Homo sapiens: one gene and its partners. The protein of the gene in region 3 interacts with the protein of the main gene of each other region in a pairwise test. Each region holds a gene or a part of one and is shown on either strand. Other genes may lie near its edges. The genes, in order: KCNN3, CREB3L1, ERMP1 and CLDN9.

Region 1 (7,038 bases), on a different chromosome or scaffold from region 3:
TAACCCCAGGAGGCAGGCAGGGCCAAGGTCAGTCAGTGTTCCCCTGTTGGAGATGTGGAAACAAGCTCGGAGAAGTCACGCACGGCCTGAGATCACATGGCTAATACCTGGATGTGGGGGACTTCAGGCTAGCTCTCCCACCTCCAGCTCCACTACCCCATGTGGCCCCCACCTTCCCTGCACCAGCAAGCCACAACCAAGGCGGGGCACCTGAGAGGCAGCTGGGGACCAGCACCCTCCCGTCTCGCTGGGCAGAGCTGCCGGTGCATTCTCCCCTTCAGCTCTTACTTACAATCCCACTCCTCATCAGGCAATCAAAGGAATCTGTTACTCGTTGCTTCCATTCCTGCCCAGAGTGAACCCAGTTACTATAGTAACCAGATGCGATTCTTTATTACGGAGTAGATGGTTTTAATTTTGTATTTGAAGAGTTTGGCCAGGCAGTCACGTTGCCATGGCTTGGCCTGTCGGGCGGCAGTTAGAAGCAGAGGGAACCCTTTGAGCAGCCATTAGGGCTTTCTAATTGCTGGGGAAAACCTATGTCTGGAAAAACCCAGGCTCAGCTGCACTGGGGAAGGAGGAGGGTGAGTCTCCAGCTGGTGCTGTGCTGGGTACTGTCTCCTGTTCAGAGATGACAGCTCCCTGATTAGAGCCACCAGGTGAGCCTCTCAGCCAGTTGCTCCCATAGTGCCCTGTAGTTTCCCTTCAGGATCCTCATGGGTGGGTGGGTGGGGGGCTGGCTGCTCAGAGGGCCATCAACACATTTTTGTTGAATGAATGAATGAATGAACAAATGATCCTTTGTAGTTTATTAAACCCTTTCAATCCATTGTCTCCTCTGCTCTCCAGTATGGCTCTGTAAGGGTACGGAGCAGGGAGAAAGAGAAACTGAGGCTCGGCAAGGTAAGAGACTTGCCTCCTAGTGCTGCCTCCCCTGTCTGTGCCTCTCAGGGCCCATGAATTGCCTGGAATGTTCCCCTTGCTGCAGAAACATATCACAGGTAGATGCTAAAAGCAAGGCAAGCATCGCCCGCCCACACCACACCAGGCCTGGTACCATAGGTCCTCTCCTGGGTCCTCAGTTCTTGCTGAACTGTAAGGAAGGCAGCAAAGTGGAGTGAGAAAGCTGCTTGGTGACTAACTTTGAAGCAGAGCAGAAGCTTCCTTTGGCCCAGACCATCAAGGAGACAGTTGGGTGGACAGAATAAAGGGCTCCTCATTCCCTGATCTCCCTGTGCAAGGGAGGAAAGGAAGGCTTCACTCGGCTTTCAGCCAGCCCCCGCAAATCCACGCTGATCCAGTCTCTCTGTTACGCTTTCTGTGCTGAGGGTGTATTTCCAGGTTAAATAAAACCTCCACCCAACCCTGGCCCCAACATTAATTTCTCCTAACCCAGCCTAGTTTCTTCCGGCCTTGCAGCTCAGGCCTTCCCAGGATGCATGCATGGCCTGCTCTCCCAGCCAGGAGGTGCTGATGCTGGTACCCTTCATCCTGAGCTCATGTTAGGCCACAGGACCCTGCTAGCTCCTCCTTAAAGGCAATCATAACCAGCTTTGGAGAGCAGCAGCTCTCTGTGGCTGTTGGTGGAGCAGGCAGCATGTGAGGCTGGAGTCTTGAGTGGGATGTGTTCGTGGATGAGCTGGGACAGGCAACAGCCAGATCTGCTGGAGGGCCAAGGACCCAGTAAAGAGAGGGCATAGTGTGATGATAAACATTCCACTACCTCCCAGAAGTGAGGTGCCTGCACAGGAGGCCCACACCGAACATATGCCCGGATCTCAGGCCTCACCCTCCAAGAATCAAATCATCGGAGCTGGATGAGACTTTAGAGGCTTCTCATTTCAGTCTCAGATGAAGACTGAGGCCCCAGAGGGGAAGGATGTGAAGTCCCTTTCACAGTCATCAAATATGGTGGGACTCCACAGTGGGACTTACCGGAAGACAAAGGCTGGACACACAGCAGGTGCTCAGTCAATTCTTGTGAGAACAGCCATCCTCATGAGGTGACAGCAGGAAGCATCTTCGTGAAAGTTTAGGGCCAGAAGGAAGTTTAGACATCACTGAGCCCAACTGTCATTTTACAGAAAGACCGAGACCAGATCCATTAATAATGCTACAAATAAGAATAGCTAATAGTTACATAGTGTGCTGGGTGCTAGGCAGGATTCCATGCATGTTGCATATACGAACCCACTGCAGCCTCACAGTGACCTCTATGCAGCAGTTATTATCATCATCCCCAGATGAGGTAACTGAGGCACAGGGTGGTTCGGTAATTTGCCCAGGATCATGGAGCCAGTAGTGTTAGGATCAGGCAATCTGGCTCCAGAGTCCGTGCCGTGAACACTTCACTGCACTGTCTGAGAGCACAGTGCTGCCAGCAAACACTTGCTGCCCCCTTCTCTGAGTGGGGAGAAGGAATCTGTGCCAGCCCTTGTGAGTTCACTCATGCAGGAAACATGACTTTTTCATCTTTACATCCCCTTACAGGGCTCAGCTCAGGTCTGGCAGGGGCTCAGGGATGTGTTTCTAATATAAATGAGTTGATCTTTCTCACCATCGTGAAACAGCCAATTTGGCACCTGTGTGCTGGAAGGGACCTTGGGAAGTGGCTCAACATAGAACACTTGTGGTCAGCAAAAAGGAGGGGGTGGTTCCCACACACCAAGCAATTCTCCAATGGACACTGGCTGAGTGTCCTGCAATATAACTCAAGCCTGATTGTCCGCCTGGAGTTAGTGTTGGCTCCCACAGGTTGAGGGCTCAGTCCCACCACATTTACCTGACTTCCGATGCTAGTCACCAGCCCCAGGTTGTTTTATCTGAGCCTCTGACCAAGTGGCTATAAATCAGGGATTCCCAGGACGCCCTTCTCAGGTTTTCATTAATTTTCTAGAGCAGCTCACAGAACTCAGGGAAACACATTTACTGGTTTATTATAAAGGACCTTACAAAGGATTCAGATGAGCAGCCATATGGGAGCGAAGCAAAGGGCAGGGCGCATGGGAAGGGGTGGAGCTTCCATGCCCTCTCTGGGCACGCAACACTCCACGTGTCCAGGGACCTCCATGTGTGCAGCTATCTGGAAGCTCATCGAAACACAAAGAGGGGAACGACAGACACTGAGGGTGGAGAGTGGGAGGGAGAGGATCAGAAAAAATAACTATTGGGTACTGTACCCAATAGTACCTGGGTGACGAAATCATCTGCACAACAAATCTCTGTAACACGAGTTTACCTATATAGCAAACTTGCACATGTACCCCTGAACCTAAAATAAAAGTTAAAAAAACAAAACAAAACACTGTCTTTTTGGGATTTTGTGGAGGTTTCATTACACCGACATAATTGATGACATCATTGGCCATTGGTGATCAACTCAACCTTCGGGCCCCTCTTCCTTCTCAGGAGGTGGTGGGGTGGGGCTGAAAGTTCCAACCCTCTCATCACCAGATTGGTTCCCCTGGCAACCAGCGCCATCCTGAGGCCACCCTGGATCCCCACCCCGACCGACCCCAGCCACTAGTCATCTCATTAGCATACAAATGACACTTATCACTTTGGAAATTCCGAGCGTTTTGGGAACTGTGCCTAAACCAGGATAAAGACCAAGTACATTATTTCTTATTATAAATCACTATATCTCAGGCAGCGATTTGCAGAGGAGGAAAGTGAGGCCAAGAGAGTCAAAGTGTCTTAGCCAGGGCTTCCCAGGTAGACTGAATCCAGCTCTCCCTACTCCACATACAGGGCTCTTGCCACATAGCAAGGCCCCTAAAGAGCATGCTGAGGTGGTCAGGCTGACCTGAGCCCAGCAGCCTGCCCCAGCCTGCCCCACCTGTCCTGCCTGGACCCTGCTGTGGGCTTCCTGGTCCTGGCCACACTAATGGACTTTCTGCTCCCACCAGCTCTTCGTGATCGACAATGGCGCGGATGACTGGCGGATAGCCATGACCTACGAGCGCATCCTGTACATCAGCCTGGAGATGCTGGTGTGCGCCATCCACCCCATTCCTGGCGAGTACAAGTTCTTCTGGACGGCACGCCTGGCCTTCTCCTACACACCCTCCCGGGCGGAGGCCGATGTGGACATCATCCTGTCTATCCCCATGTTCCTGCGCCTGTACCTGATCGCCCGAGTCATGCTGCTGCACAGCAAGCTCTTCACCGATGCCTCGTCCCGCAGCATCGGGGCCCTCAACAAGATCAACTTCAACACCCGCTTTGTCATGAAGACGCTCATGACCATCTGCCCTGGCACTGTGCTGCTCGTGTTCAGCATCTCTCTGTGGATCATTGCTGCCTGGACCGTCCGTGTCTGTGAAAGGTATTCCACATGGGGCTTTCTGAGTACAGAGCCTGTGCTGGGACAGGGAAGGGAGGAGGAGTAGGGGTGCCAGGAAGTATGTGGTCTGATGGAGGAGACAGGCATGTACCCAGACACCTGAAAGGAGACAATGGGAAAGAGGGGAGTGCTGAGTTGGGGTTCAGTATGAGCTAGAATTGCAGCATTGGAACCAAAGTAAGGTGGGAAAAAGGCACAGAATTTTCCTGATTTTCTGTTCCTTCTTTGCAAACCAATATATCAAAGCATTCTGGTTACATCAGTAACTCACATATAACACATTGCAACTTACTCCTCTTGGGTATTAATAATGCTTATTAGCATTTTAAAGGCTCTGAGAAGTCCTGAAGTAATGAAACCATTTATTTTTGTTTGGTTCAGCCTTTCTTAATTGTATTTGCCTGCAAATCCTTTTTATTATAAAGCACTATTGGTACCTTGCTACTCAAAGTTTGGTTCACAGACCAGCAGCACTGGCATCACTGGGAACTTGTTAGAGTTCCCAGAATCTCAGGCCTTAGCCCAGAATGAATGAATCAGAATTTGCATTTAACAAGGTCACCTGGTGATTCATATGCACCTTAGTTTGAGAAGCACTGTACTGATGGAACATACTTTGGGAAACATTGTTTTAGGAGGCTGGTGGTTGGGAGTCATTCAGAGAAGCTACTCATGGGAAAGAAGGGAGATGTGGCCTGACAGAGATCCAGGGCTGTAGAACAAAATGCCAACTCCTTGGAACAGCCATCAACAAGGCTCAAGGGCAGGACTGAAGCCACCTCCTTCCACCACCCTCGAGCTGCCTTTAATGACTCTTCTCCTTGCAAGGGGTCCTGGATTTTCATTTTATTTATTTATTTATTTATTTATTTATTTATTTATTTATTTATTTATTTATCTGAGATGGAGTCTCGCTCTCTCGCCCAGGCTGGAGTGCAGTGGCATAGTCTCTGCTCACTGCAACCTCTGCCTCCTGTGTTCAAGCAATTCTCCTGCCTCAGCCTCCCATGTAGCTGAGATTACAGGCATGCGCCACCATACCAGGCTAATTTTTGTGTTTTTAGTAGAGATGGGGTTTCACCATGTTGGCCAGGCTGGTCTTGAACTCCTGGCTTCAAGTGATCCTCCTACCTTGGCCTCCCAAAATTCTGGGATTACAGGCGTGAGCCACTGCACCCAGCCCTGGATATTCATTTTAATCTATTTGACATGTGGAGTCTAAATCTAGGTTAGAAACCGTGATTCTGCTCCTAAGTAGCTGTGAGACCTAGGGCAAGTTACTTAACCTCTCTGGGCTACAGTTTCCTCATTTTAAAATGAGGATCACTTGAGATAGAATGAAGCTATGTTTGCTTGAGATAGATTATTTTTATTATGTTGGGAGGTATGGTGAAGCATCCTGTGTAATTTACACAAATCCTGGTAGTCGCCCTTAATTTGTCAACACTTACGATTATATTGCCAAATCTTCCATGCACCAGTGTCCTAGCAGAGATCAAACAAGACAAAGAAGTCTGGAGAGGAGTTAGCCTCAACACACCCTACATGGGTGCCTTGAATCGTATCTCCTACCTATTTTTGAGACATTCTGTTTGCAGACATTTCTTTCAGCGTTTTGGCCAACAGACACACGGTCAAACTGAGAGGGCATTCTGCTGCCGCAGAACAAGGGTTCAGGCTCCAGGATGCAGGTTCAGGTTCTGAGAGCCAGTGCAGTGTTGGAAGACCTTTCTCACACACAGAGCCCCAGGGACACACCATGCTCACCTATTCAGAACCTCGCCATTACTCAGCAGCTGACATTGCAACATCTGCTCTGAGTGGGACCACACTGCACAGGGCTTCATGAGCCTTCTCTGGTAAGCAGACACTCTTCCCCCAATGGAGAAAGCATGTGCTTGGGTTCCGACCCCAAACTCTTCATGGTACTGTTAGCTGAGCAACATTGTGCTGGTCGCTTCACCTCTCTGGACCTCAATTTTCTTATCTGAAAGCTGGACACAGGATTTATTGTTAGAGTCAAACAAGGTGTATATATGCACTATGTACTGCAATCCAATGATGGTGAAAGTTAATAATAATAGTGCAGATCCCTTGATAACTCTTGGGAATTTTGTGCTGCCTTCTTTTAATTAGAACAGCCCAACTTGTACCATACATGGGCCTATACTCTTCCTGTTTTCCTTTCTAAATGATGGAAGCCATGTTGTCTATTAACATAGTAATTGAATTTGCGTAGCCCTTTAAGCTATTTGAAGTCTTTCACTTCCTCAGATGCTCTCTGGCATGTATTTCAGATGGCTGAACATGCAACAAAGTACCTGCAAGTGAGTTTCGTAGTTTATTGAACCTATCACAAGAAGGGGTGACTATTTTTCACTGGAAAATAAGCTTGTTTTAAAGAATGTAGTTTGCAAAGTACTTAGATGATGCACCTTATTTGATATTGCATGGCCTTCCATAGCTTCCAAGCTGAGGCTGGGTTAGTTTGGTCCCTGGTGGGCCACTGGGTCTCTCTCTCTCTCTCTGCAGACATGGGTCACAAGCCCCCGCTAAGACCAAGGCACAGAGGAACAATGAGCAAATCGGAAATTCTCTGAAAGTTCCCTTCTCTTGCGAAAAGGCCATTTGACCAAAGACTTAGGTATAACATGAGGTGTATTAAAGCATGGTGGATGTTATTGTTGCACCCC
Region 2 (6,286 bases), on a different chromosome or scaffold from region 3:
TTCCAGACAAGCCTGGCAAAACCCCGTCTCTACTAAAAATACAAAAATTAGCCGGCATGGTGGCGCACGCCTGTAGTCTCAGCTAGTCAGGAGGCTAAGGCAGGAGAATCACTTGAACCTCGGAGGCGGAGGTTGCAGTGAGTCGCAAACGCACCACTGCACTCCAGCCTGGGTGAAAGAGCGAGACTCTGTCTCAAAACAAAACAAAACAAAAAACCTAACAAAAACAATAGCTACCATTTACTAGACACTCACTACATACCAGGCACTGTGCCAAACAGCTCCTTCTTATCAGCTCAGGGTGCTGGGGGTGCCAGGGAGGGAAGGTCAGTGAAACTGTGGCAGGTGTCGGTTAAGCAAAAGAAGGCTGGCATCTGTGCAGCTGGGGGCAGGCCTTCCCTCCTCCAACCCCCTTGGCCAGGAGCATCACAGGGCAGGCCTGAGCTTCCACAAGGTGACCCAGCCAGTCACCATGAGGCAGGCCCCAGGCGCCAGGCCACTCTGCAGAGGAGCCACGCAGGAGGTGACCTTTCCTATCTTGACTGAAACGGGCACCTGGCGTGGAGGCCAAGTCTGGAGCCAGCCCCCTAGGAGAGCTCCAGGAGGCAGAGATGCCTGCGGGGTCAAAGCCTGCCAGCTGACTGCTGTGCCCTCCTCAGGACCCTGCTCCAGCAGCTGCAGAAACTCCAGACTCTGGTCACCAACAAGATCTCCAGACCTTACAAGATGGCCGCCACCCAGACTGGGACCTGCCTCATGGTAGGTGTGGCTCCCTCCACCACAGACCCACAGGAGGAGAGTTCTTCCCAAGGCTGGCTTTTTCCAGGGTTGGGCAGAGCTTTAAGGATCGGTAACATCGTGGGCAGCGTCCCAGGGTACACCATCCTGGCGCCTGGTGGGCTGGTTCTAGCAGACTCCAGACTCCTTCTCCAAGCCCATGGTGCCTTCTGCCTCACACCGGTCCCCGACTGGTTAACACAGTGTAGATGTGTAGGTGACTCCAGTGGCCCCAGCTAGGGGACAGCTGGGCAGGTTCCTTGAGGAGGCGGCTTCCACAGGCCTTGTGCAGGGAAGGGCTTGGGGAGACTCAGGGAAGAACGGACATGGTTCTTTCTGGAACAGATGGCAGTGAAAAGGCTGAGGAAACCCCTGGAAACCCGGAAGGCTCCCAGGGCGTGTTTCAGACCTCTTCCAGTCCCTCTTCTATCTTCTTCTGGAAATGGCCAGTCTCTTGCCGCCTGGCTCAGCATGCCCCGGCCCTCCGAGACCCTCGAGCTGTCAGGCAGCAGAACCAGGCTATGGGCAGGGGTAGTGTGGGCTCCGTGGCTCTCAGCACCTCCCGCTAGCCAGGCTCCTCAGAATCCTGCTGAGAACGTGATGTGGCGGTGTGTCCCCCTCCCTCGTCCCAGCCCCAAGCCCCACCTGCACCTATTCCTTCCTTTCCTGATTCCTCTACCCCGTAAGGGGACTCCACATTGGCCACTTCCCTCTTACTTCTAGCACTGCCTGTGGCGACCCCCCTACAATGGGCTGGGATGGCCTGGGCTGTCCCTGCCTTCCCCAGAGAGGATAGGAGACCCCACATGTAGGAGGGAGTGGTCGACTGGAGCAGCTGCTTCCTTGGGAAAACGCTAAGACTTTTGTGCCTGTTGGTTTGGGAGAGGAGGAGTGGGGTGGTCAGGGCCGTGGCCCCTCCTTACCCCAGATCTGATGCCACTCTCTCTTTGCTACCAGGTGGCAGCCTTGTGCTTTGTTCTGGTGCTGGGCTCCCTCGTGCCCTGCCTTCCCGAGTTCTCCTCCGGCTCCCAGACTGTGAAGGAAGACCCCCTGGCCGCAGACGGCGTCTACACGGCCAGCCAGAGTGAGTGCCCGCCTGTCATGCCAGCTCCCTGGGCTGAGGCTGCCCTGCCCCAGCCCCAGTGTCCAGGCAGAAGCCAGACATAAGAGAGAAGCCAAGTGTGGGGTCAGCATTATCTCATTTTGCCTCATTTTCCAGATGGGGAAACCGAGGCCCAAAGAGAGTCTATGCTTTGCTCAGTGTTTGTGGTAGAATTGGGACTAAAATACAGAGCTCCCGATGCCCAGCCTAGCTCCCAGAGAGCTCAGGAGTGGCTTGCAGGAGGTGGGTTTAGGGGATAACAGGAATGTTCCAGCCCTGGGCCCCATGCATTATGGTGCCAGTGCTTATGGGGCATCTGCTAGGCACCATCAGTATCTCATGATAGGGACAGCAAGTGAGTTTCAGCTCAAAAGCCATTTCCAATAAGGTGGTGGTAGCTGCCTGAAACACTGAGTTAAGAAGGACCCTGGGCCGGGCGCGGTGGCTCATGCCTGTAATCCCAGCACTTTGGGAGGCCGAGGCGGTGGATCACCTGAGGTCAGGAGTTCGACGCCAGCCTGGCCAGCATGGTGAAACCTCGTCTCTACTAAAAATACAAAACTTATCTGGGCATGGTGGCATGTGCCTGTAGTCCCGGCTACTTGAGAGGGGTGAGACAGGAGAATCACTTGAAACTGGGAGGCAGAAGTTGCAGTGAACCAAGATCACGCCACTGCAGTCCAGCCTGGGTGACAGAGTGAGACTCCATCTCAAAAAAAAAAGAAGGATCCTGAGGCACCATTCAGAATTGACAGGAAGGAGTGTCATGATCCACTGATAATGTCTACCATGGACAGAAGAAGGGTAGCGGTGGTGTGGGTTCAGATATCTACTGTTTCCAAGGGGGATAGTAAACGTACAGTGGTTAGGAGCATGGGGATGTCAAGTCCATCGTAACTGGCACTGCCACCTGCTGTGTGACCAGGGGCATGTGTCTTAAGCTTTCATTTCTTCATCTAGAAAATGGGAGTGGCAATTTTGCACTTACTGAGCCATGGCTGTGAGACAGTGCATGAAATAGCACAGTGTCTGTGCTTATGAAATGAGCACACTCAGTCTCTTAGAGCTCACGGAGGAGAGAATAGCTACATCACAGTAGCTGGCAAAGGGAGAACCAGGGTAGGGCCCAGCAAAGAAGAGTGTGGATTTCAGACGCAGAGAATCCTTCAGGTGGACCCACAGAGGAACTTCCTGGCTGTCCCTCATCACTTACCAGTCAGTCACTTACCAAGAACCACGTGTCTGGCAGGACAGGAGGAGGAAGAGGAAACAGATGGGAGGTCAGAGGAGGGAAGATTAAGGAGTGAGTTTCAAGAAGGAGGGATATAGCAGGGAGGATGAGCTAGACGTTGAGGGCCTTGAGGGGAGGAAGCTGGTGTGGGGAGGGTTAGGGAAAGAGGAAGTAGAGACAGGGAGAGTGAAAGCTCCTCCCCGGACACGTGCAGGCTGAGGAGGAGAGAACGGGGTGGTCACTAAAGGCGGGTGGGCAGCAGCAATGCAAGGTCTGGAGAGCCATGTGTCTGCTTTTCCAAGGCCACAGAAGCCACTGGAGAAAAAGGAGTGGAAAGAGAGCTGGGGTTGATGGATAAAGCCACAGTGAGAGGAGGCAATGAATGAGCCCCTTGGAGGGAAGGCAGTGGGTTTTAGGCCCAGGACCTGGGCTGGGTGGAGAGGAAGACACATCCCAGCAGGCAGATGGCTTTGGAGCAGGCTGGTTTGCAGAGCTGGCGCACTGCGCAGTTCCAGGGACCTCTGTTCACACAGACTATGAGGTCATGGCTGCAGAGCCGGAGGGGCAGCAGATCCCAGGGCCAGGCAGACCTGGGTTCGCATCCTCCCTTCAGGGAGGACAATTTCCCTGAGTGCCTGGAACTTCAGCTGCCTCCTCTGGGAAGCGGGGCTAAAGAAACCTCATTCCCTAGAGTTTCTCTAAGATTTTAACCACTCTACTTAGGTCTATGGGCCTTGGATAATGCCTAACAAATGATGGGTGTCCAACAAATGTTTGTTTTCCTTCTCTGAAGGGCAAATTAGGATCTAGAATGGGGAAGAGACTTATTCCAGGTCTCACAGAAAGTAAGTGGTGGACTGGCCGGGTGCGGTAACTCACTCCGGTAATCTCAGCACTTTGGGAGGCCAAGGTGGGAGGATCACTTGAGGCCCAGGAGTTCAAGATCAGCCTGGCCAACATGGTGAAACCCCGTCTCTACTAAAAATACAAAAAGTAGCCAGGTATGGTGGCACACACCTGTAGTCCCAGCTACTCGGGAGGCTGAGGCAGGAGAGTCGCTTGAGCTCGGGAGGCGGAGATTGCAGGGAGTCAAGATCCTGCCATTGCACTCCAGCCTGGGCGACAGAGCAAGACTCTGTCTCAAAAAAAAAAAAAAGGGAGATAGAGCAAGTAAGTGGTGGAGGTTAGAACACAGCTCCCAGATGCCCAAACTCAGTACCCTCTGCTAGGAAGAGGTGACTTTTCTGAGTATTTCCTGAACACAGTTTCAATCACTTCCCCTGTATTACCTCATTTAAACCTCTCATTTACATGAGGTTGGTCCTAGTATCCCTATTTTACAGAAGAGCACACTGAGGCTCAGAAAGTTTAAAGCAAAGTGTGTGGCTTACCTGAGGTCACACATCCGGGAAGTGTCAGAGCTGGGACTCAGATCCAGGGCCTGCGTCCTTAACCACTAGGCCATGAATGTGGCCAGGATGTTGAGGGAATCTTGGGCACACCGCTCATCCTACACTCCCTCTCCAGTGCCCTCCCGAAGCCTCCTATTCTACGATGACGGGGCAGGCTTATGGGAAGATGGCCGCAGCACCCTGCTGCCCATGGAGCCCCCAGATGGCTGGGAAATCAACCCCGGGGGGCCGGCAGAGCAGCGGCCCCGGGACCACCTGCAGCATGATCACCTGGACAGCACCCACGAGACCACCAAGTACCTGAGTGAGGCCTGGCCTAAAGACGGTGGAAACGGCACCAGCCCCGACTTCTCCCACTCCAAGGAGTGGTTCCACGACAGGTGGGGTGTGTGGCCCCTTTCCCTCCTGAGGTCTCAGGCTCCACCTGCCTCCTGCCCACCCTTGGTCCCCACATTGGCCACACCCTCCCAAGGCCCCATCCCTACTTGGTCTAGATCCAGCTTGCAGAGGGTAAGAGGGTTCCTGCTGGACAGTCATCGCTGGCCTCTCTTCTCTCTCCAGGGATCTGGGCCCCAACACCACCATCAAACTCTCCTAGGCCATGCCAAGACCCAGGACATAGGACGGACCCCTGGTACCCAGAAGAGGAGTTCTTGCTCACTAACCCGGATCCGCCTCGTGCCCCTGCCTCCTGGAGCTTCCCATTCCAGGAGAAAAGGCTCCACTTCCCAGCCCTTCCTTGCCCCTGACATTTGGACTCTTCCCTTGGGCCGACCACTCTGTTCTCATTCTCCTTCCCACCAACATCCATCCGTCCTTCTCAGACAAACCACTCACTGGGTACCCCACCTCCTCTCTCATATGCCCAACACGACCACTGCCTCCCTGCCCCCACACCTGCACCCAAACAGACACATCAACGCACCCCACTCACAGACACCCCTTACCCCACCCCCACTGTACAGAGACCAAGAACAGAAATTGTTTGTAAATAATGAACCTTATTTTTTATTATTGCCAATCCCCTAAGATATTGTATTTTACAAATCTCCCTCTTCCCTTCGCCCCTCCCTTGTTTTATATTTTATGAAGTTAGTGCGGGCTTTGCTGCTCCCTGGCCCAGGAAAGAGGGACTACCTGACCCTCACCTGGCACCCCCCTGCTGCTGCCCAAGCCGCTGGGCCTTTTTAATTGCCAAACTGCTCTCTTCATCAGCTCAGCACATGCTTTAAGAAAGCAAAACCAAAAAAAAAAAAAAAAAGATGCAGCATCAACTCCTGACTTTGTGCCTTTCTTCATTGGAGGGGAGGGAAAGTAGAACCAAAGGGCAGGGGAACAACAAGGGTAGGTTGATTTTATGTTCTGGCAGGGGGTGTGGGGGTATAGGAGTATGAGAAGGCATTTTTTTTTTTTTGTAGAGGTAGGGTCTCGCTATGTTGCCCAGGCTGGTCTCAGACTCCTGGGCTCAGTCTGCCCACCATGGCCTCCCACAGTGCTGGGATTACAGGCGTGAGCCACCATGCCCAGCCTGTTCACTTTTTATTTTCCAATATTTTGTTGACTGATTTGTTATTTCCTCTTCTGTCTTTGGGCTTTATTTATAGCTTTTATATGTGTATGCTTTTATTTGAGGATTAGGAAGATAGTTTAGATAAATGTTTTTTATCTGCCTATTTAAGGAGAACCCCATGTATGTATGTATGTGTACATGAATGAATGACAAGATCTCGCTCTATTGCCCAAGTTGGAGTCCAGTGGTGCAAT
Region 3 (4,084 bases):
TTTGACTTCCACTGTCATCAGTTTCCTTGGAAGTTCCCAGTGATGACTAAATTTTCAGAACTGAGCTAATATTTTCCAGCTTGAAGGGAAAAACTAGTAAAACATATTTTAAGGTGTTACATGATCAACTCTGAAAATTACAACTCCATTCATAATGGCAGTCCTATTCAGTACTGTTACAGCACTTCGCAGTTTTGCCAACACTTTCATATGCTTTTTCTAATATAATCCCCTCAATGAAGAAATTGTGACATAGATTAAATTCCTGATGTCATGCAGCAGTTAAGTGATAGGACCAACTTAACACAGGCTTTCTCATTTACAGTCTGTGCCTTTTCTCCTGTACCTCATTATTTAACCTTGTTGATTCACACTAAGTGTCCAAACTGGTAAACCTCCATTAGGTTTATAGTAAGTATATTTAAAGTCATGCAGGCATGAACCTTTATGAAGTCTGGTTTGGATTGTGGGTTATTTTTTTGATCCTTTTAAAAAGATTAACTGTTCTTTCTTCCTTTTACCTTACAGGACCAAGCCATATGTCCTTCTATGTTCGAGCCCACAAAGGGTCAACACTTTCTCAGTGGTCTCTTGGCAATGGCACCCCAGTCACAAGTAAAGGAGGAGACTACTTTGTCTTTTACTCCCATGGACTCCAGGCCTCTGCATGGCAGTTCTGGATAGAAGTGCAGGTGCCAATTTCCCAGCATTGTTTGTTTCATTGATTAGGTTCCCAGGTGGTATTTAGCAAGAACCTTGGGTTCAGTATTCTGGCTTCTGAGAACTGGAGAACTAATTGATTTTCTCTGGCAGGTTTCAGAAGAACATCCTGAAGGAATGGTCACCGTGGCCATTGCTGCCCACTATCTGTCTGGGGAAGACAAGAGATCCCCTCAACTGGATGCTCTGAAGGAAAAGTTCCCAGATTGGACATTTCCCTCTGCCTGGGTGTGCACCTACGATCTCTTTGTATTTTAATCTTGTGGATGAGCTCTAAGTACATGCCCAGTGGATACTCCATGTGACATGGTTTCTCCCTATGTTACGTGGATGTTTGTAACGTAAGTCAATGAATTTTAATGATCATATGTTCAAAGAGCTTTCTGGGTTAACGCTTTTCAGGGCCAAGCACTATAAGGGTTTAGCTGTGGCGCAGTGATGCATGGCCTGTTGACACTTGAAAATGCCAGTCTTTTGGCACTTCAGCACATGTGGGTACTGCCACTACACACACGTCATTTTATATGACCTTAAGGACAAAGCCAACAATCCACTTCAATAGCTGCCCCTTTAGGATCAAGAAAGATGTACACTGTCAGAGCATTGTTAATGAGACAAAAGTTGTTTCCAATTTAAGCCCCAAAACCATTTGTTGTATTAGTGGATGGTGGGTAAAATATCATTCACTGAGGTAATGATTCCCCTTGAGAATATAACTCTGTGTAGGTCACTGGAAAGTGATTGCCATAGGGCTGGGAGAGAAGCATTGCACTCTTGAGGCTGTAGCCTGTGTCAAGCTGTTTCTTCAGGCAGCCTCTCAAATGTGCTTTGTCTCTCTGTGCTGAGGCCTGGACCCTGTGCTGAGCTGGTGACTCACTGTCCTGACAAGTGGACACACAGATGCACTGCTGTGCTGCTTTCCTGAGGTGGTTTTCTATGCCTGTTTTCCTCTGAAACATGTCTGTTACCCCTCTCCATCTTACCAAGTTGAAAAGGGGAATATTTGGCCACATACCCCTCTGGTTTTCGTAGGTTCTTTTGGTTCAGAATATTGTTTGTGCCAGTACATGACCTTAACTTCCTTCCTCAGAGCACTGAGCTGCCATCTGGGCTATTCTGGGGTAGAAGGAAGGCTGGGAGTGGTGGGAATTTTATAAATATTTATTCTCTTTTCTTTGTTTCATAGGAGTCTTGTGTTATACAAGGTTAGTCCTTCATGGTATAATCTTACTGATGCACTGGGCCTATCTTTTTGTTTTCCAGCCAGTTGAATAGATTAGTTTTTCTCAGTAACTTACTATCCAGCAGACTGGCTTTCCTGAGACTTGAGGTTGTGGCTTATACTGGAATGAGACCACTGTACGTGTAGGTGGTTCAGATCCTGCGTAATGGCAGCATGAGGACTTAAAAGGTGGTTTTCATTTTGAAGATGGCTATGTAGCTTGTAAGGTGTATCACAGCAGTACCTCTCATGGCTTTTTGGTTCCAGCAGTGAGGGCATTGGTGAGATCAATGGTAAACTGTGCAAGCTTTCTTTTTATCATTAGGAAATGTGAAACGTTGGACAAATTTTGAGTTTTAACAAGGACAAAAAGTTGAAAGAAAAGGCACAGTTAACAAAAAAGGGTGGCTAGATTTATCTTGGGTGATGGAGGAAATGAGAGAGGAATGCTCTTGAAAGGTGGTCTGTGGATCTGTCTGAATAGAAAGAGCACAGTAAGTATGCATTGCCGGAGAAAACGTCCTTGAAGCTGCTTGTCTCATGTGTATGATGTGCTTTTTAAATCATGCCCCTCGTTGCCTGCCTAATCTGTGACTCCCTAAAAACTAACTGGGCCCATGTAGATGGGGCTGCAACCAGAGCTGAATAACATGTTAGGCTCACACATGCATCAGCACTGCACACTGGAATCATTGCTCTTCCTGGACTTTGTAGAAATCAGTCTCAAGTGCTTCAAGAGTCTGGCTCCTGCTACTTTTATCTGTCAGGTAGCACATAAGGTTTGCAGGGTTTATATTTTGTATAGAATCACAGTTGTGGAGAAAAAGTAATAATTTCTCAATGAATTTTAAAAATGGGCCTATTTTCTATCCCCGTGGTTCATCTGATATAATTAGTGTTCCCTGTGAATTCCCCCCCTCTATGGGAAGGATGCCTTTACTCTTTATCAGTAATAAATTATGACTGTTTTCATATTGCCTTAGGGTTATTTCCCTGTGTAAACCATTGTCTTTTGTTTTGGTTTTCTTTAGCATTATGAAGCTTTGGTATTGTACAAGGTCAGTAGTAAGATGCTCACTAGTCTCAGGGCTTGTGTAATATTCTGGGAGGTCATTTAAATGCCAGAAATGGTCAAGCAATTATACACAGTATTTATGACTCTGTTAAGCATACCGTTTGTCTGTCACATTAGTAGATTCTGAGATTAAAAAAAATTTTTAAAGAGTGATCATTTAAATAATTTCTAAAAGGGTCTTTTCAAGCTCTAACAAAGTCACTAACAAATGCATTATTTTCTACAGAATTAGATGTTAGTAGTACAGTACTGCATATTCAGGGAAAAAGTGTGAGGAATTGATTTCAAAATAGTTCGTTCTTGTGTTTGACCTAAGAATGATTGTCGCATGAAGTGTTTGTTTTTACAGTTTAGCATATATAAACAAACATGATAGGATTCCTTAAGATGTTACCACCCAGGGGGCCACAAGCCAGCCTGCTGTCTCAGGAAGCTGTAGAAGGAGTGTTTGTCAATTTCTTGTCACTGGTTTGCTGACTTACTGAGGATTAATTGTTGCCTTACAATGTTACTGAAATAAACTGTTTAATATACTGGTTGGTATCTTTTTAACTGAAAAACAGATCTGTGTTCTTCTGTATCCCCATATTTTCAAGGGTTATTCCATGTCCACAGAGCCTTTTAATTGCTGTTAAAAGACCTAGATGGCTCATGTGAGCAAAGAACTCAACATGGAAATGTTTACTTCAGTTAGAATCCTTTATCTTAGAATGAAATGGTACTTCTGAATTTCACAGAAATTATTAGGTAAATGTTGAGCTTCACCTATGTAGGAGTTTTAAATCATCCCCATTAGCAAAAAAATAGCAAAGGGTAAAGGGCGTTCTTTTATTTGGGAGTAAGGGTAGGAGGGAGGGAAGAAGTTGCCTTTCAGCCAGAGTGACTCATTGCTTATTCTAATCTCCACAGAAGGAAAGGGCACCACCACTCACCAAAATAGAGCATGAACTTTGAGTTCAGAGATCTCTGTGCAAGTTATTTAAACTTTGAGTGAATTCTCTCAGAACAGTTCAATGCAAGGTGAAGCAGCTGAACAACTTCTAACCTAATACTCCTCTTCTTCTTTT
Region 4 (6,597 bases), on a different chromosome or scaffold from region 3:
CTGTCCCCAAGAGTTCCTGCTGCTGCTGGGGGCTGGGCTTCCCTAGATGTCACTGGACAGCTGCCCCCCATCCTACTCAGGTCTCTGGAGCTCCTCTCTTCACCCCTGGAAAAACAAATGATCTGTTAACAAAGGACTGCCCACCTCCGGAACTTCTGACCTCTGTTTCCTCCGTCCTGATAAGACGTCCACCCCCCAGGGCCAGGTCCCAGCTATGTAGACCCCCGCCCCCACCTCCAACACTGCACCCTTCTGCCCTGCCCCCCTCGTCTCACCCCCTTTACACTCACATTTTTATCAAATAAAGCATGTTTTGTTAGTGCATTTGGTGTTGCAGCGGGTTACTGAGTGCCCACCCTGGCTAGGGGAAGAGATGGGCATAAGTGAGTCACGATCCCCTCTCCCCGTGGCTTGAGTGAGCATACCCACCAGGCAGAACCTAGAGCCAGACCTTGGCCTGACAGCCACCAAGGGAGGCCACCTGGCTGTGCCTGCCCAGCCCCAGCGGCGGCGCACAGATTAGAGGGAGCCCAGTTACAAATGCTCTTTATTTCCAACTCGAGGGTGGGGATGTTGGGGAGAGGGAGGTGATGGGCAGGCCCTCCCTGACAACTCCAGGGTTGGGAGGGCATGGTCTGCTCCCTGGTTTTGGAGCCAACGAGCTGCTGCTGTTTTGGTGAGGCCAGGGTTCCTGGGGCAGGGGAGGGCTCAGAAGAGAAGGAAGGCCAGCCAGTGTCCTGGGCAACGGAAGGAAACAATTACTGGGGAGGTGGGGGCAGGCCAGGGTTCCCAACACCTCTAGGCTGCCCAACTTGGGGGAGAACATCAAAGGGGACCCCACTGAGAAGAGCTCAGCCAGGCCAGCTGACCCAGCCCTGCAGCCAGGTGTAGCTTGGGCTTTTGGAAAGTGGGTTTTCCTGGGGAAGGAGGTTGTGATGGAGCAGGGCATCTGGTCATCAGGCCAAGGTCGAAAGGGCGGGGCAGTGGGGAGCAGTGGGCTCCCAGGGGAAACCTCCGCCTCACACGTAGTCCCTCTTGTCCAGTCCAGATGCACCCGAGCGGGAGGGGATGGAGTAGCCCAGCCGAGGTCCGCGGGGCCGCTCGACCTGGGGCGGGGGGCACGTGCAGCAGAGGAGCCCCCCGCCCAGCATAAGCAGTGCAGCCGCCGCCCAGCCCAGGTAGAGGGAGGCCCCCAGCTCCCGCTTGAGGGCCTCAGCCACCAGGGGGTTGTAGAAGTCCTGGATGATGGCGTGCGCCGTCCAGCACACAGGGATGAGCACCAGGATGCCGGCGAGGAGGAGGATGACCCCCGCGGTGAGCACGATACGGGCCTTGGCACCTTCGTCCTCCACACACGTGGTACACTGGGCACCTGTGATGGCCACCAGGAGGCCAAGCAGGGCCAGCAGGAGGGCAATGACACAGAGGGCACGTGCGGCCTGCAGGTCCTGCGGCAGAGCCAGCAGTGAGTCGTACACCTTGCACTGCATCTGGCCCGTGCTCTGCACCACGCAGGACATCCACAGGCCCTCCCACACCACCTGGGCCACCACGATGCTGTTGCCGATGAAGGCGGTCACCTTCCACAGGGGCAGGGCGCAGGACACCAGGGTCCCCAGCCAGCCCAGCACAGCCAGGGTCATGCCCAGCAGTTCTAAGCCGGTCGAAGCCATCTGGCCCCTCGGTTAGGTCTTCTCAGCCCCAGGCGGCCTAGGTGACTCAGAGGGTGTGTCTGGTGTGCTGGGTGGGTGTCTCTGTGTCCAGCAGGAGGGGGAAGGCTTGTTGGTGTCCCCAAGCCAGGCCAGTCCTCAGTTCCATGAAAGGCGCCTCTTGAAAGGCGCCTCCTCTCCGTGCCTCTTGCAGGTGTTTCTGGTCCTCGCGGAGCACAAAGCAGACTCGTAGTCCCGCTCGGCTGAGTGGTGGGTGTCACCTCGAGGGGCCTCCGCCCATCGGATGCCCTGAGGGTGCTGCTGCTCTTACCACCCCGCTGTCACACCTGGGCTGAGCTCGCACAGGCCCTCCAGACGCACTGCCAGGCTGAGGACAGCCACGTCTCCTGCCGGCTGGCGCAGGTTCCCACTGAGCGACTCTGACAGTGCCACCTGGGGACTCTGCGGGCTCTCGGCTGCAGGCGGGGTTTTAAGGCCCAGGCAGGGGAGGAGCAGAGTGAAGTGCAGGGAGGCCGGGATAGGGGAGACCTGAGCCACGGGGAGGGTGCGGGGCTGGGGGTTCGTGGGCAGCGGATGGATGAGGGGCCTGGGGGCCAGCGGGGGATGCTGCGGCTGAGTGGGGACAGGGGAGGAAAAGCGTCCGTAGCATCTGTGCATGTGGGAACCAAGGGTAAAGGAGGGGAAGATGGAGGACAAGCTGAGGAAGAAGAGACGGATCGGGGGTCAAAAAAGTAACAGGCTCAGGACAGAAACACACACAGGGGGCGTCGGCTTGCCTTCCTGAGCCTCCTCCTTCCGCAGCCCCTCCCCAGCTGCCTCTGCTCTCCCCCAGCCGAGTTTCGTGATGCAAACATGCCCCAGCTCCCCGAGTATCGCACACTCCCGCCCGCCTGGGACTCTCTGGAATCTGATCCATCCCCCGTCTCAGCCCAGTGGCCCCGCTAGCTCCCGGGGGAAGGTCCCCGCCTGCACTGTTCCCCAGACGACAGGTGCCTGGCGCCCAGCTCAGGTGGCATCGCCCTGGCAACGGCCTAGAAAACTACCCCCCACTTCAACCTCAGCTCAGGTGCGCTCTTGCCACCCCTGCTGCTGAAACCGAGGCTGAGCTGAGCTGCCTAAGATCTCCAGAGGCCAGAGGATGAGGGGCCTGTTGTGGAGGTTGGGGGGCACTCAGGAAGGGGGATGGAGGCGGGACGGGCTGGGGCTGGAACCCAGGGTGGGGCACAGCCCAGGACCCGGTTATGTTCCATGGGTGGGTGAGTGAGTGGCCAGTCAGGCCTCCCGGGCCAAAACACCCCAGAGGTGGGCACGGGGGTTAAGTCCAGGGACTCAAGTGTCCCCAAGACCTGCCTTCCAGTTTGCAGGAAAGCCTTACCTCCGGAAAAACCCCCTCAGAGCCTGTGATTCCACTCATGGGGACAGCCTGGGAGTCCCACTGACCAAAGCTCAAATCCTGACCCCTACCTGGGACAGGTCATGGAAGGTCGAGGTCCTTAACCTCCTTTGGTCAAAGACCCACTTGAGAAACCCCGTGGGACTCACAGAACATGCACCCACAAACATGTGCCCCTCATTTGTGGGGGAGGGTTCATGAACTCCTTCAAGCCCCTGCCTGGGTGCTAAGAACCTCTGAGGATTGTTGTCTGAAAAAGGGGTGTGACGGCCAGGTGCGGTGGCTCACGCCTGTAATCCCAACACTTTGGGAGGCCAAGGTGGGCGATTCACGAGGTCAGGAGTTCGAGACCAGCCTGGCCAACATGGTGAAACCCCGTCTCTACTAAAAATACAAAAAATTAGATATCCCAGCACTTTGGGAGGCCGAAGCAGGTAAATCGGAAGGTTAAGAGATCGAGACCATCCTGGCCAACATGGTGAAACCCCGTCTCTACTAAAAATACAAAAATTAGCTGGGCGTGGTGGCACAAGCCTCTAGTCCCAGCCACTCGCCACTCTGGAGGCTGAGGCAAGAGAATCACTTGAAACCGGGAGGTAGAGGTTGCAGTGAGCCAAGATCGTACCACTCCACTCCACTCCAGCCTGGCGACAGAGAGAGACTCCTCAAAAAAAAAAAAAAAAAAAATTAGCTGGGCGTGGTGGCGGGTGCCTGTAATCCCAGCTACTTGGGAGGCTGAGGCAGAAGAATCGCTTGAACCGGAGGCAGAGGTTGCAGTGAGCCGAGATCGCACCACTGCATTCCAGCCTGGGTGACAGTGGGAGACTCTGTCTCAAAAAAAAAAAAAAAAAAAAAGGAAAAGGGATGTGAGGAACATTGTCTCCATTCATACACTTTCCAGGGAGGTACAGAGGATCCTCAGAGTGGGCCCTCACCTGGGACTGCCTCTCACCTGCCTGGTGCTGGGAGGGCTGGGGTGTGCTGGAGCCCACTGGCCAGTGCGGGCAGGGCTGGAGGTGCCCACCACACACATCTGGTGGCTGCACCACTTCACGGCATTGCCTTCGGGGAGCCAGTGGCCAGGCACACCCCTGCTCAGTGCCCCTCACCTAGTGGGTGGGACATTGTGTATAAAGGGCTCTAACCTCAAGGAGCGGTCAGGGTTCAAACCTAGGGGTATGAGCATCGCTTCTGCGAAAGGGTTTTAGCATCTTTTGGGTCCGGGCACTGAGGCTCACGCCTGTAATCCCAGCGCTTAAGAGGCCAAGGTGGGAGGATTGCTTAAGGCCAGGAGCTTGAGACCCACCTGGGCAACACAGTGAGACCCCATTTCTAAAATAAAAAAAAAATATATATATATATATATACACAAAAATTAGCTGAGTTAGGTGGTTCCTGTCTGTAGTCCCAGCTACTCGGGAGGCTGAGGTAGGAGGATCTCTTGAGCCTAGGAGTTAGAGTCTGCAGTGAGCTATGATTATGCCACCGCACTCCATCCTAGGTGAGACCCTGTCTCTTAAAAAAAATGATACTTTTGGAAGAGAGATTTATACTTTCCTTCAGATTTGCAAAGGGGCCTTGACCCAAAACAGCTTAAGATCCTCCCCTGCAAACACAGAGACAGGCCAGCGCCAATCAGCTGGTCTGTAAGGTAAACAGAAGCCTGGCCTCCTCTTCACCACCCCCTGGGCCTCTCCACTGAGGGGGGCTCCTCCGGTACGAGGGGGGCTGACCTGGTGGCCCCACAGAGTCTGGAAGATGGGGGGGTGATACAGAGGCTGGAAAATGGCCATCAGTGGACTCAGGGAATCTTGTGGCAGGTTTGTCCAGCTCACCCAGCCCCTGGGGCTCAGATTTCACAGGGTTGGGGTGGGGAGAGCAGAGATTGCAGACGGAGGCAAGCCGGTCAGCGGGCTCCCTCGCAGCCTTCCAGGGGCCTCCAGGAATCCAGCCACACAGGTTTGGGCAGCTGTCAGGAGGCAGCAGCAAGCCTGCCTCCCTGGAAGTCCCCCCACCCAGCAGCCCCAACCCAGGGGCTATTCTCTTCCCTGGGCCGGAACAAGTCCTCCTTGTCCTAGGGCCTAAGGTGATCGGCTCATCCCACTTTTTTGAGGGACATTCCCAGCTTGAATATTGGGTCCTCCAGGGAAACCGGGACGGCTGGTCCACTTGCTGTCGGGCCCTGCCTCGGTGACTCACCGGTTCCACATTCAGCTCTAAACCCCTACGTTGTAGCCCAGTGGCGGGCTGCACACATCCAGTGAGCGCTGTGCCCGGAAAGGGCATAAGAGGACCCCAGGGGTTTTTTTGTTTGTGTTTTGAGACGGAGTTTTGCGCTTGTTGCCCAGGCTGGAGTGCAATGGCACAATCTCGGCTTACTGCAACCTCTGCCTCCTGGGTTCAAGCTGTTCTCCTGCCTCAGCCTCTCAAGTAGCTGAGATTACAGGCATGCGCCACCACACCCGGCTATTTTTTTTCTTTTTTTGTATTTAGCAGAGACGGGGTTTCACCATGTTGGTCTGGCTGGTCTGCGAACTCCTGATCTCAGGTGATCCGCCTGCCTCAGCCTTCCAAAGTGCTGGGATTACAGGCAAGCGCCACCGCACTTGCTCGGGGACCCCAGGTTTGTGTTTTGTTTTGTTTTGTTTTGTTTTTTTGAGACGGAATCTCGCTCTGTTGCCCAGGCTGGAGTGCAGTGATGTGATCTCGGCTCACTGCGACCTCTGCCCGCTGGATTCAAGCGATTCTCCTGCCTCAGCCTCCCGAGTAGCTGGAACTACAGACATGTGCCAACACACCCGGCTAATTTTTGTATTTTTATTAGAGACGGGGTTTCACCATATTGGCCAGGCTGGTCTCGAACTCCTGATCTCGTGATCTGCCTGCCTCGGCCTCCCAAACTGCTAGGATTAGAGGTGTGAGCCACCGCATCCAGCCGACCCCAGGTTTTTAAGACCCCAATTCCTCTTTGGCCCAACATCTCCACACCGGAGCAAGAAGGAAAGCAAGCCCACACTCCAGGGACTAGCCAGCAGAGTGGGTGGAGGCTGCTCAGCAAATGCGCACACCCCCACCTCAGTGACCAACCCACTGGACTTGCCTTCACAGTGGCCCTGTGCGGCTTCAGGCTCCTCCCACCCCAAGTCTCTAAGATAAAACACAGTATCTCCCCAAGCCCCTTGGGGAGAGTAAAAGTGGAGAAACATCTTGGAGCCTAGGAGAGGCTGGAAGAGGGTGGTTGGGGAGCTGCCCATGGTGGGAGGATTCCCAGGACACATGGGTAGCAATTAGCCTGTTGTCCTCAGCCCTCACTAGACCTAGGTTGGGAGGTCCTAGACCCTCTCCTAGGCCCCCGTGCACCTGGATTCAGTTGGATCTTGGGAAAGGAAGGGTTAAGGTTGGGGCCTAATCAGGGACTGGAATGCCATTGATATGGAAAAGTGGGGGCCCCTTGGTGTGGTTACCATCTCAATGGCACTTTAACACCTCCAGCGAAGTCCCCTCCCCCATCCACCACGTCTGGGAAAAGAGGTG

The links.
Region 1: the proteins of ERMP1 (region 3) and KCNN3 interact in binary tests that used the Homo sapiens proteins (3 or more experiments, as listed by UniProt).
Region 2: the proteins of ERMP1 (region 3) and CREB3L1 interact in binary tests that used the Homo sapiens proteins (3 or more experiments, as listed by UniProt).
Region 4: the proteins of ERMP1 (region 3) and CLDN9 interact in binary tests that used the Homo sapiens proteins (3 or more experiments, as listed by UniProt).

The regions. Positions count from the first base shown.
Region 1 is NC_000001.11:154,769,264-154,776,301, reverse strand, and holds part of KCNN3 (small conductance calcium-activated potassium channel protein 3), read left to right. Parts: intron 1-3,908; coding exon 3,909-4,327; intron 4,328-7,038. UniProt on the Homo sapiens protein: Small conductance calcium-activated potassium channel that mediates the voltage-independent transmembrane transfer of potassium across the cell membrane through a constitutive interaction with calmodulin which binds the intracellular calcium allowing its opening.
Region 2 is NC_000011.10:46,315,627-46,321,912, forward strand, and holds the end of CREB3L1 (cyclic AMP-responsive element-binding protein 3-like protein 1), read left to right. Parts: exon of another isoform or gene 1-659; coding exon 660-759; intron 760-1,734; coding exon 1,735-1,861; intron 1,862-4,637; coding exon 4,638-4,902; intron 4,903-5,083; coding exon 5,084-5,120; coding exon of another isoform or gene 5,121-5,271; 3' UTR 5,272-5,783; downstream 5,784-6,286.
Region 3 is NC_000009.12:5,784,038-5,788,121, reverse strand, and holds the end of ERMP1 (endoplasmic reticulum metallopeptidase 1), read left to right. Parts: intron 1-528; coding exon 529-692; intron 693-813; coding exon 814-978; 3' UTR 979-3,550; downstream 3,551-4,084. UniProt on the Homo sapiens protein: Within the ovary, required for the organization of somatic cells and oocytes into discrete follicular structures.
Region 4 is NC_000016.10:3,008,439-3,015,035, reverse strand, and holds CLDN9 (claudin-9), read right to left. Parts: upstream 2,114-6,597; 5' UTR 1,674-2,113; coding exon 1,020-1,673; 3' UTR 531-1,019; downstream 1-530.